2 separate regions of the Homo sapiens genome follow, and region 1 is linked to region 2. A link means that fine-mapping ties the variant in region 2 to the expression of a gene that starts in the linked region. Tissue or cell type: whole blood. Region 2 holds a variant in brackets; the other region holds the start of a gene. All regions are shown on one strand. Distances are from middle to middle.

Evidence for each region. PIP is the estimated chance that this variant, and not a neighbour inherited with it, causes the effect.
Region 1: it holds the start of ULK2, and the variant in region 2 is fine-mapped to the expression of ULK2 in whole blood (TOPMed, PIP 0.98).

The regions. Positions count from the first base shown.
Region 1 is chr17:19,863,527-19,871,627 of GRCh38, forward strand. ULK2 (unc-51 like autophagy activating kinase 2) reads right to left here and starts at 4,410. Exons shown (of 27, transcript NM_014683.4): 1 at 3,802-4,410; 2 at 2,210-2,302; 3 at 1,277-1,318. The coding sequence starts at 3,891. RefSeq lists an enhancer at 3,527-4,035 and silencers at 3,614-3,793, 3,874-4,463.
Region 2 is chr17:19,765,609-19,773,710 of GRCh38, forward strand. ULK2 (unc-51 like autophagy activating kinase 2) reads right to left here. Exons shown (of 27, transcript NM_014683.4): 27 at 5,222-8,102. Among named protein-coding and RNA genes, the nearest start is that of ALDH3A1, 21 kb to the left of the region's middle. RefSeq lists an enhancer at 1,156-1,305. The variant G/A (reference allele first, on the strand shown) is at 3,923.

The DNA.
Region 1 (8,101 bases), 98 kb after region 2:
CTTGCTCTGTTGTCCAGGCAGGACTTCAGTGGCAGGATCACAGCTCACTGCAGCCTTGAACTCCTGTGCTCAAGCGATCTTCCTGCCTCAGCCTCCTGAGTAGCAAGAATTACAGGCTCAAGCCACCACACCCAGCCTGATTCTTGCATTTGAAGGATTTTTTAACATAATATGGCCCTAAATATAAGCCAGCTACTTCATCTGGTGCTACACCCAGAAAACAGCAATTTTCTCCAATGCTGAGATCTGAAAAGGATTTCCAAGAGTAATTTTGACTATACAGAAATTTTGCCTTAGTGATTGACTTTAGAACCTACTTCCCATTCCAAATAAAATGCAACTCTACTGCATGCCATAGCATACACAAATATATCTATAACCTATAATCATAGATATAACTGGGTGATGAACATGCATAGTGACCTTGTTTTTAATTTATTTTCTAATATTTTTTCAATTTACAAATATTGCTTTCATAAGAAGAAAAAGCACTATGTAGGCCATGTGTGGTGGCTCACATCTGTAATCCCAGCACTTTGAGAGGCTGAGGCAGAAGGATCCCTTGAGCCCAGGAGTTCAAGACTAGCCTGAGCAACACAGAGGGACCCTATCTCTACAAAATAAAAAAAATGTTTTTTTAAAAAAAGAACTTCTATTTAGGCGGGGCGCAGTGGCTCACGCCTGTAATCCCAGTACTTTGGGAGGCCAAGGTGGGAGGATGACTTGAGGTCAGGAGTTCGAGACAAGCCTGGCCAACATGGTGAAACTCCATCTCTATGAAAAACACACACACACAAAATTAGCTGGGCATGGTGGTGCACACCTATAGTCCTAGCTACTCGGGAGGCTGAGGCAGGAGAATCGCTTAAACCCGGGAGGTAGCAGTTGCAGTGAGCCGAGATCAAGCCACTGCACTGCAGCCCAAGAGACAGAGTGAGACTCCATCAAAAAAAAAAAAAGCTCTATTTTTAATTGTCCTTTCAACATTCATCAGAGAATGCTAGATCTGGTATCAACAGTCCTCTACTTCACCTAAAACAATGCTACACCTATAGTGTATTATCAATTGTTAATAAACTTACTCATGCAGCAAATTCTTTCAGCCTATTACTCTGTTCTGTTTTAAACAATTTCTTAATTCAGAAACATGTAACTCAAGCTATGCATCTTTTCAACAAGAATTAAGGTCATTTTTATTTCTATTAAGAGTCACTTAAATCTGTATGAAATTAAAAAAAATTTATTTTAATTTTTAAAAATTTTCAAAATAAGGTACCTGAACATCATAGAGTGCTACAATATTTTCATGCTGAAGTTCCTATTAAGAAAATTGAGAATGAAAAATATGTAAGTATTCTAATGACTTTACTATATTTTAATATGTAAATAAAATTAAAGTATACACATACACTTCTAGTATTATACTTATATTAAGACTATAAAAATTCAATTAAAGAATAAGAAATGTGCCTGATCAAACAAAAAGCACATTATCTCACTGAAAGAAAATATGATTTTTAGCTCAAAGAGCTACAATTCTTAAAAAAGAGCTCTCCACAGGAAGCAGTTTTGAGGAAATCGGGTGTTAAATGAGGGTTCCACGCTTGTATTAGTTTGGAAAACACCAGGTTAAGTACTTTGAAACAAGTTTCTTCATTGTAGAATTTTTCAGACTTTCTTTAATGAGCCATAGGCTTTGTGACTCTCCAAGAAGTATTTAGTAAATGGGGTTTTCCAAACGTACTCAACCATCTTCTCAAACCATCCCACTTAGATAACACTGGTTGTGAGTGATCTAAAAAGGCCACCTCCAAGGAATATAACTTTCTTCAATTTAAAGAAAGACCCCAAGCACCCCTACTCCCCCCAAAAAACTTAGTAGTAACATGAAAGGGGACAACAGGAGAGGTAAAAACAATGTACAAGATGGGTCTGCCTGGCCCTCTTCTCAAACAACAACACAGTCACTAGGAAAAAGAGAAATGATGAGAAGCTAAACTCAGTCTTCACAGAATCCCTCTGAGCTTTGGTTCTTAAAAATAGCTTCCGAGTACTCAATGTTTTAAAAAAGTGAGCATGCAAAAAGGAGAGCAACAGTTGAAAATTCTCAAACTTGGACCCAACTACCAAAATTGAAAAGGATGGCAGCATGTATTCATTTAAATTAAGTTTTAACCTTATATGAATACTACTACATAAAGTAACATACCTTTAAGATTTTAATTTCCTTTCCAAGCAGTATTTGTGATTTTGACAAGTTCTTTTTATTAATACTTTTAATAGCTACCTCCCAATCAGTTTTCTGAAAAGGAAAAACAGTGTTACTCCTAGATACCATTCCACATAAATAACAGAAAAAAATTTACAAGCGCGAAGGTGTTTTTGGCAAATAAATGTACGGCATTGGGGAAAAATGGAATTATTTTCAATAATTGGAAAGTGATTTCATAAATTATAGTGCAATATGCCAAGATCCTACAACACAACTTCTAAAAATAACAAATATGAAGTCCACATGGTAACTAACATTAAATGAAAAAAGAACAGTTCACAACCACTTCAAAGTTATGGACAAATGTAGAAATAAACTTGGAAGGTGATACAGTTAATTGAAAAGTTATTTGTTAGCTTGGAAGGATTACACCGTGCTTGAGTTCTAAATTATTTTCCTAATAAATGAAAAGTAGGCCGGGAGCCGTGGCTCACACCTGTAATCCCAGCACTTTGGGAGGCTGAGGCGGGCAGATCGGATCACCTGAGGTCAGGAGTTCAAGACCACACTGGCCAACGTGGTGAAACCCCATCTCTACTAAAAATACAAAAAAAAAAAAATTAGGCGGGCGTGGTGGCGGGCACCTGTAATCCCAGCTACTCAGGAGGCTGAGGCAGGAGAATCGCTTGAGCCCGGGAGGCAGCGGTTGCAGTGAGCGGAGATCTCGCCACGGCACTCCAGCCTCGGCGACAAAGCGAGACTCTGTCTCAAAAATAAATAAATAAATAAATAAGAAAAGTAGCATTACTTCATCCGATAAGCAACAAAGTCAGCCCACTTTTAACACGCCCCTTGGGCAACAATCAGAACTGCCACACCCTTTAAGATTATTTCCACTCCCGATATGCCTTTCCAAATTCTTTAGATTCTAAAACCTCGTGTAACTGTACTTGCGAAACAGCAAAGGCTTAAAACAATTTTTTTAAGGCTTAAAGGTGATTTCATGTTCAAGGTGATTGAAAATGAATTGTCCAACCACCTTTCTCACCCGGAGCTCGTCTATCTGACTCCGGGGGGGAAAACGGTACGGGGGCTCTTCGGGGTGCAGGGGACCAGTGCTGGGAAAGGTGACACCTCCCAGGCTGCGAAAGCCTGAGGCTAATGGGACATCCGCCCATTTTCCGCTGGGTCTGTAATTATCAACCTCAAAAGTGACCAGCCCTGGGCACGGGGAAAAAAACCAAAGGTCCATTCACGCCCAACCCTCGAGTCTGCACGGTGCAGTACCGTCTATTTTGGGTCCAGGGTAACCTGGGTGCAAACGCTCCTGCGGGCGGACCGCGGGGTGGGCCCCGGGCACACAGGAGGATCAGCAGCAGCCGGTCGGTAGGCGGAGCGCTGCCAGAGGCTTGGGCCTCACAACAACCCTCACAGGACCAAAACAAACGGCGAGACGGGCTGCGCGCACAATAGCATACCCGGGCGGCTAGCCGAGTCGGGGGTCTCGGCTCGCGGCTGCGCCAAGTTTCAGAACCACCTAGCCCCGTGCCTGCCGCCCGGGGCCCGGCCTCGCCCCGGCCGGCGCTCACCTGGCGGTGCCGCCCCCGGAAGACCACGGCGAAGGCCCCGTGTCCCACGAGATCCCTCTTGCTGTACTCGAAGTCACCCACCACCTCCATGGCCGCGCCCCCGGGGCACACAGCGGACGGGCGGGCGGCGCAGTGCGGCGCAGGTATCAGCACCGCGGCTCCGCGGGCCCGGAGCGCGCCAGCGTGCGGCGGGTCTGGGGCAGCCGCAGCCCCGGGCCCGGGCGGACTCTCATGCCGAGAGACCGGAGCGGAAACTGGGGAAGCTGCCGCGCGGAGCCAGGGTCAGCGAGGCCCGGCCCGGCCCCTGCCGCTCATGGCCCGGCCTGCCGCCGGCCGCTGGCTGTCTGGCGAAGCGGCCTCGGCGCTGCCGGGCCAGGGGTGCCGTCACCGTCACTGTGCGCGCCCAGAGCCGCACACGCGCTCTGAGGCAGTGAGGGGCCCGGTACTCTCCATCCCCAGCTCGTCGGGCCTCCTCGGCCCTCCCCGCTCGGGGCGCTGCTGCGACGGCGACGGCCGCCGCCCTAGAACCCGCACCGCCGCGGCCCCGCGCTTCCCCGCCTCGCGGCGGCGCCCAACGCCCTCGCGCGCGCTACCCGCTCCCGCGCGACTGGCTGCCCTCCGCGACGTCCGCGCGCCTTGAAGGCCGCAGCGCCAGCCGGCTCCCTCCGCCGGGGAAAGGAGTGCGGCCAGGGCTTGGCGCCCGCAGCTGGGCAGATCCTCGGCCGCTCCTGAGGCGGGGACGAAGGGCGCGACCCGCTGCGGCCACAGCGGGTTACGGGCTGCGGGCTCCGTTCTGGGCCTGGGGAGCAGATTCGAGCCGACCACGCCCCGGGCTCCAGGCCGCTGGGAGGCGGACTTCAGAGAAGCGGGTCTTGAACCCCAGCTGCAGGCAGGACGGGATTATCTGCGCAGGGTAGACCCCCAGATTCCTGCCAGAGCAAAGGAGCAACTGCTACTCCAGGCTTTGCCCGCGCTCTGGAAAACCAGAGTTCACGCTGCCAAACTGCCAGCCTTCGGACGCCTCTCGGGGTTTACTCGCTTAGGATCCCTAGAGGGACGGTGACAGGCGGGATTCTGCACCTTTTGGGGGTCCCTTGACTGCGAGAAGCTGGTGACAGCTCAGGGCCCTCTTCGCAGAGAATCGTTTCTGCACACCGACTCAGAATCGCACACGTTTTCAAGGTTCTCCTGGGAGCTCCTAGTGTCAGGCTAGTTTGACCTCGGGCTTACTTCACATGGCCGAAGGGAGCTTTCTTTTCTACCTGATTGTTAAAGCTGTCCAAGTGACAAGGAACAGATTGTCAGGTTTCCCGCAAAGAAGTGTCTTATGAAACCATTTAATAAACAATATGCTTGAAACTACCATGGAATACGCAGGCTCCACACTTGAGTGTGTGTTCGGTTGTATAGGGTATGTGCTTTTGGGGTCTGTCACCACCTCGACTGCCACTGCCTGTCCCTGCAAGCTGATCTCTGAACCATGACAGAGTCAGCTCCAGGATTCTGAGAGAACGCTCCTTCCTCACACGCTCAAAACGTAGGGCCTTGAGTTTCTGCTTCTGCTACTGTGCACGCTTACGTTATCCTGTCCTTACTTACATCTGGCCCAGGTGGTTGTGTTAGACACTGAAAATCTGGAGCCTTCAAAAGTTGACAGCAACTTAAGCAAGTTTGCACATACACCCAAAAATGGATGGAGATGATTCCTTACCTCACTGAAAGATTCTCTACAGTCTATTTTTTTGTTTACTTTTTTTTTTTTTTTTTTTTTTGAGACAGAATCTTACTCTGTCACCCAGGCTGGAGTGCGGTAGCACAATCTTGGTTCACTGCAACCTCTGCCTCCCAAGTGCAAGTGATTCTGCTGCCTGAGCCTCCCAAGCAGCTAGAATTACAGGCACGCACCACCACGCCCAGCTAATTTTTGTATCTTAGTAGAGATGGGGTTTCACCATGTTGGCCAGGCTGGTCTCAAACTCCCAACTTCAAGGGATCAGCCTGTCTCGGCCTCTCAAAGTGCTGGGATTACAGGCGTGAGCCACCACGCCCGGCCTGTTTTTTGTTTTGAGACAGAGTCTTGCTCTGTTGCCCAGGCTGGAGTGCAATGGCATGATCTCGGCCCACTGCAGCCTCCGCCTCCTGGGTTCAAGTGATTCTCCTGCCTCAGCCTCCCAAGTATCTGGGATTGCAGACCTGCACCACCATGCCCGGCTAATTTTTTTTTTTTTAGTAGAGGTGGGGTTTCACCATGTTGGCTAGGCTGGTCTCAAAACTCCCAACTTCAAGCGATCCGCCCACTTCGGCCTCCCAAAGTGCTGGGATTATAGGTGTGAGCCACCTCACCTAGCCACATGAAGGTTTTTTGTTTGTTTGTTTGTTTGTTTTGAGACGGAGTCTTGCTCTGTCGCCCAGACTGGAGTGCAGTGGCACGATCTCAGCTCACTGCAAGCTCTGCCTCCCGGGTTCACGCCATTCTCCTGCCTCAGCCTCCGGAGTAACTGGGACTACAGGCACCCGCCACCACGCCCGGTTAATTTTTTGTATGTTTTTAGTAGAGACGGGGTTTCACCGTGTTAGCCAGGACAGTCTCCATCTCCTGACCTCGTGATCCGCCCACCTCGGCCTACCAAAGTGCTGGGATTACAGGCGTGAGCCACTGCGCCCGGCCACATGAAGGTATTTTTCAGAAACCTCCAATAGGCCCTTCGTTTGGACATGCGTGTCCTGTATTCACAGGCCAAACATGGGCCCCATGGACATATCCATTTGAAAAGCAAAATGTGCAGGATTTCTGACCTCAAGAGTCAGAAAAGAAGTGGGGGCAGGAGGCAGGGGGTGCTTTGCTAAAAAATGTTTAGTTAGGACTATGTTGGTAGCAAATAGCAAACGTCAAATGTGATAAAGTGAAAAATAAAGAATGTAGATAAAGATACAGGTGTGCTTCTCAGAGTTCAAAGTTGGGCTTCAAAAGCAAACTACCCGCAGAACCAGGATCTCAAAGAGAACTGCCTTCCGTCTGTGCCCCTGCTTTGTTCTCTTGCCTGAGATCTCCTACATGGTGGCAATGGCAGCCCCAGTCTCCAAACCAAATTTTTTTTTTTTTTGAGACGAAGTCTTGCTCTGTCGCCCAGGGTGGAGTACAGTGTTACGATCTCGGCTCACCGCAACCTCCGCCTTCCAGGTTCAAGCGATTCTCCTGCCTCAGCCTCCCAAGTAGCTGGGATTACAGTTGCGTGCCACTGCACCTAGCTAAAATTTTTTTTGCTTTTTTAGTAGAGGCGGGGTTTCACCATGTTGGCCAGGCTGATCTTGAACCCCTGACCTTAGGTAACCCGCCTGCCTCGGCCTCCCAAAGTGCTAAGATTACAGGCGTGAGCCACTGGGCCCAGCCACCAAATTCTTAAGGAGGGGATTCTGATCAACCTAACTTCAGCTGGGTGCTGGGCCCTGAACAATCATCGGAAGCCAGGAATGGGACTGAGGAAGGCAGGATCATGTAACTATGGCTGCCCCCAACACAAGCCTGTGGGTGTTCTGAGTCCCCAGAAGCAGGGGCCACATAGGCACCCCAGGAAGTGTTCACCCTAGGTCAAATTTAGGCTTCATTTGAGAATGGAGGCCAGGGCAGATTTCTAGTTTACCTCTAAAATCACTGGAAATTGCCAATTTGATTCATGTTCATTGTTCTTAATTTGTCCTGTGTGTGCATATGCATGTGTGTCTAAACATGCTTAACTGTTGAAATGTTTCAATACCAGTTAGTAAATAGAAAAACAGTAACTGCAATGAGAGGTAAAATTAATTACTAATATAGGCCAGGCACAGGGGCTCACGCCTATAATCCCAGCACTTTGGGAGACTGAGGTGGGTGGATCACCTGAGGTCAGGAGTTCCAGACCAGCCTGGCCAACATGGTGAAACCCCATCTCTACTAAAAGTACAAAAAGTAGCCGAGCGTGGTGGTGTGTGCCTGTAATCCCAGCTACTCGGGAGGCTAAGGCAGGAGAATCACTTGAACCTAGGAGGCGGAGGTTGCAGTGAACCAAGATTGCACCATTGCACTCCAGCTTGGATGAGAGGAGCAAAAATCCATCTCACACACATGCACACACACACACACACACACACACACACACACACACACTAGCCAGGTGTGGTGACATTCGCCTGTAATCCTAGCTACTCGGGAGGCTGAGGCAGGAAAGTTGCTTGAACCCGGGAGGCAGAGGTTGTGGTGAACCGGGATCGCACCACTGCACTCCAGCCTAGGTGACAAATGAGACACTGTCTTAAAAAAAAA
Region 2 (8,102 bases):
TTCGAGGGCATGAATGACAGGAAAAAAAGACCCAATATCAAGCCAAACATCACAATTTCTCAAAATTTGTCCATTAGCCTCTGGCATAGGAAACATCCAGGGAAGGGAACTCCTACCCTAGACCCCACCTGCCCCACATCAGACCTCCTGGCAGCAGGCTTTTTTTTTTTTTCTTTTTTGAGATGGAGTTTCACTCCCGTTGCCCAGGCTGGAGTGCAATGGCGTGATCTCGGCTCATTGCAACCTCTGCCCTCTGGGTTCAAGTGATTCTCCTGCTTCAGCCTCCCAAGTAGCTGGGATTACAGGCACCAGGCACCACACCCAGCTAATTTTTGTATTTTTAGTAGAGACAGGGTTTCACCATGTTGGCCAGGCTAGTCTTGAACTCCTGACCTCAGGTGATCTACCTGCCTTGGCCTCCCAAAATGCTGGGATTACAGGCATGGGCCACCAAGCCCGGCCAGAATCTTTTTCTTCTATGCGCTAGTAGGCCTGAGGTCTTACCTTTCTCACCTACAAAAGCCCATCTAGAGCAGTCCTCCACATGGGGCACCCCCTGCCCTGCCGAGCAGAGGCAGGCCCCAGAAGGGACGTGTGTTGAGGGCAGCCCTTCCCTCCTGGGGGTGGCCCTTAGTTCTGCAGGTCCGAGTCTCCTTAGGGGCAGGCTCGCTCCCCAGCCCCTTCTCAAGCCAAGGGCAGATCTGACCAGCCCCAAGAGGGGATCGAGGAATCTTTGGGGCAAGACAGCAGAGCTTCTTTGGGGAAAAGGGACTTGAGGACTCACCTCACTGCTTCCCTTAAGAAGGGAGATGGGCTTCCGGGGAGCTGGGAGTCCCCAACATCTAGTGACAGGGGGGCACCAAGAGGGCAGCTCTCACGTTTTCTGTGAGTTTGTGCCTTTTCTGAGGTTTTCCTCAGACTCTCAAAGGGGTCCCTGCTGGCGACCCCTTGGGAAGAAGTTACCTCACTGTCCCTTCTCCCCTCCCCATGCAAGACACTGTCCTTTCTCAGGGAGCAGCCTGAGAAGCCTCACTGCCTGGGGGCGGGCGCCCTCTGCCGGTTGAGGGCTGGCCCAGGTCTGGCTCAGCCCACGGGGCGCTGCTGGCAGTAGGGCTGGTCGGGGAGACACATGGGGCTGGACAGGTGTGTGGGGCCTGACCTAAGCTCCTTCTCCAAAGGCAGAGAAGGCACTGAGGTGGGACATGAGTCCCAGGGGTGGGGCCTGCCGCTGACAGTGTGTGGCTGTGGGGGTCCAGAGGCACATGACCTCAAAAGAGTTTGTTTCAATTCAGACAGGCAAGGGCTAGAGTACACATTTTGTATTTAAAAAACAGAGGACATAGCTAAAATATTTATAGAGGATCGACCCCATGGTTTTTTGTCAGCCCCACAGCAAGGAACCAGAACTTGGTTTTGCAAAAATCAATATGCTTACATAGCCCTGCTGAGAGACAGGGCAACAGCCCAAGGCCTGGCTCCCCGGCACTGTAGGCAGCTGTTGCTAGGAACAGGGGCATCAGATCCCAGCATGGCAGGGAGAGCTTCACTTTGCTTGCTGCCACCATTTGTTGAGCACTTGCTAAATGCCAGGCACTGTGCAAAGAGCATTTTCCCCACACAGGTAGGATTAGAAAGTAGTAGTCCTCTTATCTTCTCTAATGGATGGAAAAACTGAGGCTCAGGATGGGAAGGTAACTTGTCCAAATAACACACAGGAAGATTAAAAGTAGAACACCTCATTTCTCAAAGCAGCAGAAAAACAAGTATGTTCCAAAACTACCAATGGAGAAAAATTTGCATGCTGTAAACTAACAGTTCATTAAATTCTGTTTAAGGCTGGATGCGGTGGCTCACGCCGGTAATCCCAGCACTTCAGGAGGCTGAGACTGGCAGATCACCGGAGGTCAGGAGTTCAAGACCAGACTGGCCAACATGGCGAAACCCCGTCTCTACAAAAAATGTAAAAATTAGCTGGGCGTGATGGCACAAGGCCTGTAATCCCAGCTAATGGGGAGGCTGAGGCAGGAGAATCACTTGAACCCAGGAGGCAGAGGTTGCAGTGAGTCAAGATCATGCCACTGCACTCCAGCCTGGGCGACAGAGACTCTGTCTCAAAAAAAAAAAAAAAAAAAAGAAAGAAAGAAAACAATGGAAAATTCCAGAAATAAACAATTCCTAAGTTTTAAGTTGCACACCATTCTGAGCAGTGTGATGTAGTCTTCTGCCATCCCACTTGGGACACAAATCATTCCCTTTGTCTGTCATGTCCACGCCGCATATGTGATCCACCCTATACTATGTGATTGTATAGAGAAAAACAGCATACATATATGGTTTGGCAGTTTCCAAGGTTTCAGACATCCACTGGGGGGTCTTGGAGCATAACCTCATGAATAAGGTGGGACTCCTGCAGTTGCGACAGAGACCAGACAGTCTTCAAAACCTAAAATATTTGTATTTTTCAGTACAGGAAAAGCTTGTCAACCCCTGGTCTACACACCTGGTTATCTTGGACCATCCTGCCCCAGACTTCCTCCGTAACAACCCATATAATGTTTCTATGACCATAGACGTAAAAGGAAACTGTGACCTTTACCAAAATAAGCAACTTATTTTTCACAAATTACTTATGTAATAAGCATCCTGTTTCCAAAACAGACCTCAGTTTTCAGGTCCGTTTTGAATTGACATTTGTCACACTGCTGACTCCTTTGTTACTGAGTGAACGATATATTCTTGAGACCAATTTTTCTAAGAAATGTTATTTTAGCACATGTTCCATGGAAAGGAGGGTTTACGTTTCCAAAATACAGATGTGACAAAGAGGAAGCACATCTGATGGCCAATGAGGAGAAACAACAGAGTGGATCCTGAGGCCTCCCGTGTCCTTTCAGCCTCCCTCTGCTACTCCCACTGCTGGCCACACCAGCCTCAGGGAGGGACTGCCATGTGCACTTTCCACGGCAGCTCATTTAACTCTTGCAGGAAACCCAAGAGGCATGTTGTGTTTCTGTCTCTGCTTTACTGACAAGGACAGGGAAGCCCAGGGAGTGAGGCGTCTCACCCAGGTCAGTGTCGGCGCACACAGGAGGCAACCAGGGCATGTGGCAGGGCCCCACAGGACACCAGGGCCTCTCAAACCCACTACCCTTTCAGGCCCCTCTGCTGCTCACCATTGGTGAAGTGGGGCTGTCAGGAGCAAAGAGAATTTCTGGATTTTCTCCTAACATTTTCCCCTACTTTAACCTCCCTTCATCTGTTGAATTTACTGCAAATCTTTCCTAGTCTTTTAGTTTTCCTATACTTAAAAAAACCTTGTTTTTAAAAATTACATAATTAGGCCAGGCACAGTGGCTCATGCCTATAATCCCAGCACTTTGGGAGGCTGTGGGCGGATCACCTGAGGTCAGGAGTTCGAGACCAGCCTGGCCAACATGGTGAAACCGTCTCTACTAAAAATACAAAAATTAGCTGGGCATGGTGGCACGTGCTTGTAATTCCAGCTATTCAGGAGGCTGAGGCAGGAGAATCACTTGAACCCAGGAGGCAGAGGTTGCAGTGAGACGAGATCACGCCATTGCACTCTAGCCAAGGCGACAGAGTGAGACTCCATCTCAAAAAAATACACACACACACACACACACACACAAAGTTAGCCAGCCGTGGTGGCACACACCTGTAATCCCAGTTAGTTGGGAGGCTTAGGTGGGAGAATAGCTGGAACCCATGAAGCAGAGGTTGCGTGAGCTGCGATCGTGCCACTGCACTCCAGCCTGCAGCCTGGGTAACAGAGTGACACTCTGTCTCAAAAAAAAAAAAAAAATTTTTTTTTAATTATATAAGCTCATGGTGAAAAATATCAGCATTATGGAATATAAAATTAAATGTCTCCTGTAATCCTAGCACTTTGGGAGGCTGAGGC[G/A]GTGGTTCATTGAAGGCCAGAAGTTTGAGACCAGCCTGGCCAACATGCTGAAACCCCATCCCTACTAAAAACACACAAAAAATTAGCCAGGCCTAGTGGTGGGCACCTGTAATCCCAGCTACTTGGGAGGCTGAGGCAGGAGAATCACTTGAACCTGGGAGGCGGACGTCGCAGTGAACTGAGATCGCACCACTGCACTCCAGCCTGGGTGACTGAACAAGACTCCGCCTCAAACAAACAAACAAGTCTCACCCACCCTCTAAAATAATTCCCATTTTCCAAGTCCATCAGACACTACAGATAGGGAAGGAAAACTTATTCCATTGGACACCCACAGATATATCTTTATCATCTTATAAACACTTAAAATGTATTCAAACCTTTTGTGCATACTTTCATCATATTGTAGGAAAGTTCTCCCAAAGAGACAGGTGTATGGGGGTGCTGTTTTCTTTCTCAGAATGTAAAAGGGATTTATGAAAACAAAACTGTTCGTGCTCAAAATATTCTGGGTTTCTACTAGAAACTAAATCCATTTTCCAACCACAAGGCATTCCATATCAAATCAGCAGCCTGCACTCTTCCTGCTCTTTATGAGAATTCCTACCTAAATCAGTCATCTTTGGTTTAGCTCCAAAGTTTATCAACTCATCTTCATCTTCACTGAAATTTTCCAGAGGAAGTGGAGCAATAACCTCTAGCCACCCAGGGCCCCTCAGAAGCCCTGGCTGTAGGTTTCCCATCATTGCTTCCTGAAGGGAATCCATGTGCTAGACAAGAAGTCACTTTATTGCCCGTGAGACTTGGGAGAGGCCTTCCAGAGATCTGGCCAGGCTCAGCCACTATCTTCTTCCCCAGCCTCTCCCTGTAGTAGCGGGTGGGGGTGCCAGTGTAAACAAGGGCCCCCATGTGGGCTGAGATGGGAACAATAGGACAGAAGGTAGGAGAAGGCAGCAGCTGGGTGGACTTGGTGGCTGGAGATGGGGTTCTACATGCCATCCTCGTCCTGCGTAAGCCAAAGGGGACTGGCACTGAAAGCTAGGCTGGGCAGGCCGAGGTGAGAATGGGAGTGCACGCAGCCTCAGCAGGGCAGCCTCTAAAGGGCTTTCCTGGAGAAAGGGGCTATGTCTACTGCCATCAGTGAAGGAACTGGCCCCAGCAGGCGGCAGGGCCTATGGCAGGGGAGGGTCCTCTGGGCACATCTAGACTTGAGAGTCCTCCCACTTCCCACTGAAACAATTCCCTGCTGCTCAATCTCACTGCCATATGCAAAAACAAGCAAACAGGAACACTTAAAAGTGGGTCGATCAAATGCTTGAGTTTATTAACATGTCTCCCAAGTCTTTTTTACTGGGAGTTTCAGGGTGGTCTCTGAAATCCATTGCTGTTGAGCTCCAACTCCAGGCCCCATGGGGTTGCACCAAGCTGCTCAACCTCACCTGTTTCTTGAAATTTTGCTGCCTTCCACTAGGCAGATGGGTCCAGCAGGAGACATTGGAGCACCAAATGGAAAAGCTCTTCCTTCCTTCCCCTCTTCCTGTACATCAGAAAGAATGCATTAGAAACTCAAGGAGTGAGCATTTGGGCTTCCTAAGGGTGAGACAGTGTGGGGCTCCTGTGGGGAGATGGGTACTCCTGTACCCAGTGTGGCCTCCTGCTCCCACCGCTTTCCAGCTGTGGGGCTTTTCCTTGTGGAAATTACTGTCCAAGTTTGATTTTTCCATCTGTAAAAGGAGGCAAGTAAGGGTTGGTATGAGGATCAAATGAATTAACAATTATCAGACTGACACAAACATTCCACTTAAACAGCCAAATTGACTTAAAAGGGCAACATAGATGTCTGAAGCCAGACTGCCTGGTGGGCAAGCTGGAGAAAGCAACTTCTATGCAAGAACTGTGTCCTTTCAGAAGCTCCAGCCAGAGCGTACGTGGTTGGAGAGAGCCCTGAAGACAGGCCTTGCCCCACACAAACACAGAACAAATTGTTCTCCACCCCCTCCCAAAACAAAACAAAAGCAGTGAAGAGCCACAGAGTGATGACCACTACAACGGATACAGGATTGCTGAGCCCTTCCACGTGCCAGGGGCTGGGCAAAGAATTTCATATTCATTAACTTATTTCTCACCTCAACTCTGTGAGACATGCACTCTTCCCCCACTGACAGATTCGGAGGAGGGGAGGAACTTGCCAAAGAACACACAACTGCACATGGTGGAGCTGGAATTTGAGACCAAGTGGACCACTAAGCTACCTGCCAAATTGAGTTGCAGAAACCCCAAAGGAGGCATAGAACACGGTTTCCAATAAACAAGAGCTCATGTGGGCACTTCCTAATGACAGAAGCTAACTGTCCAAGAGCACGACTGTCTTGGGACAGGAGATCATGCTGCAGAGCCCAGGGAGGTCCGCCCTGCGCAGAGAGGGAGTGCAGACCTAAAGAGAGCCACACTCTGTGAAAAGTGGAAAAACCTACAGATTGATCCCACCTGTTCAGAGCAACAGGCACGGCTTCACTCGGGACCACATGTGCCCAGGGGCTCCACAGGGCTGGGTCCTGGCTCTGGCCATCTCTGCACAGCCTCTGCTGGGCCACTCTGTGAGAGGTCACGCTGGCAGCAAGATCTCAGCCTCTGCTCCTTTCCCTAGTACAGTTTGATCTCTGAATTCACTTTGATCTTTTACCAGTTCGGCTTCACCTCTTGCACCAAAGCTGTGATTTCTCAGGGCAAGTTGTCAGCTTTCCCGTATGCAGTGTTTTTCTAGGTGGATTGTTTCTGATGTGGTTTCCTCTGATGCAGGTGAGGGAAGTATCATCTTGACTCCTCCACCAATAAAATTATTCTCACAGGGCTTTACTAAACATGAGACTTGGGAGGGACCCAAGAGCTTGCTTGGCTGCAGATTCAAGGGTCCAGGACTCAGAAAAAAGTGGTCTGAGGCCGTCTAGAAATAGGCACAGATACTTCCAGGATGCATGTAACAATACCAAGTTCTCTGAGCAGTAGCTACTGCCTGCCAAATAATCCTCCTTGAGAAATACTGATCAATCTTGCTTTATTCCAGAAAGAATTTAAGACTGCTTATAGAAAATACGAGGGAGCATAGTTTAAAAAGTGTGAAGTCCTCCTCCAAAACATGTGCTAACCACTAATATCAACATTAAGGATAGCCCGGGCGCGGTGGCTCACGCCTGTAATCCCAGCACTTTGGGAGGCCGAGGCGGGCGGATCACGAGGTCAGGAGATCGAGACCATCCTAACACGGTGAAACCCTGCCTCTACTAAAAAATACAAAAAATCAGCCGGGCGTGGTGGCAGGCGCCTGTAGTCCCAGCTACTCGGGAGGCTGAGGCGGGAGAATGGCATGAACCCCGGAGGCGGAGCTTGCAGTGAGCCAAGATTGTGCCACTGCACTCCAGCCTGGGTGACAGAGCAAGACTGTCTCAAAAAAAAAAACCAAAAAACAAAAACATTAAGGATTTTGGCCGGGCACGGTGGCTCATGCCTGTAATCCCAGCACTTGGGGAGGCTGAGGCTGGTGTTCAAGACCAGCCTGACCAACATGGTGAAACCCCATCTCCACTAAAAATACGAAAAATAGCTGAGCGTGGTGGCGCATGTCTGTAATCCTAGCTACCTGGGAGGCTGAGGAAGAAGAATCACTTGAACCTGGGAGGCAGAGGTTGCAGTGAGCCAAGATTGCGCCAATGCACTCCAGCCTGGGCAACAGGGTGACTCTGTCTCAAAACAAGCCAACAAAAAAATAATAAGGATTCTTCAGATATCTGAGTCCAGGTCCTCATGTCCACTGTGTCTAACTCAACTTATTACTGTGCAGACTGAGGCAATCCAGCCCTAAAAATCCTCTCCTCTCAAGCTCCTGGACGGGACTCTAGTGAGGGCAGAACTGCTGGGCTGGTAATTCCTCTTGGTGGAGACAAAGGAACATGGGACTACGGGCAATAAGTTACTTATCAGTCTTCACTAGAGGTTGTTTCTCTCAACTAAAGTTATCAAAATTGGGTGTTGTAATTTTTAACTTGATATTCCCAGACAAGTGCCAGGAGAGAAGCTGTTGCAAATGCTGAGTGGAGAGGAGAAAGCCTCAGCAGAGAGGCGAGCTGGAGGGAGGGATGGATGCTATCCTTCTCTGGACTGAAGCAGTTACAGGATGGCTGCA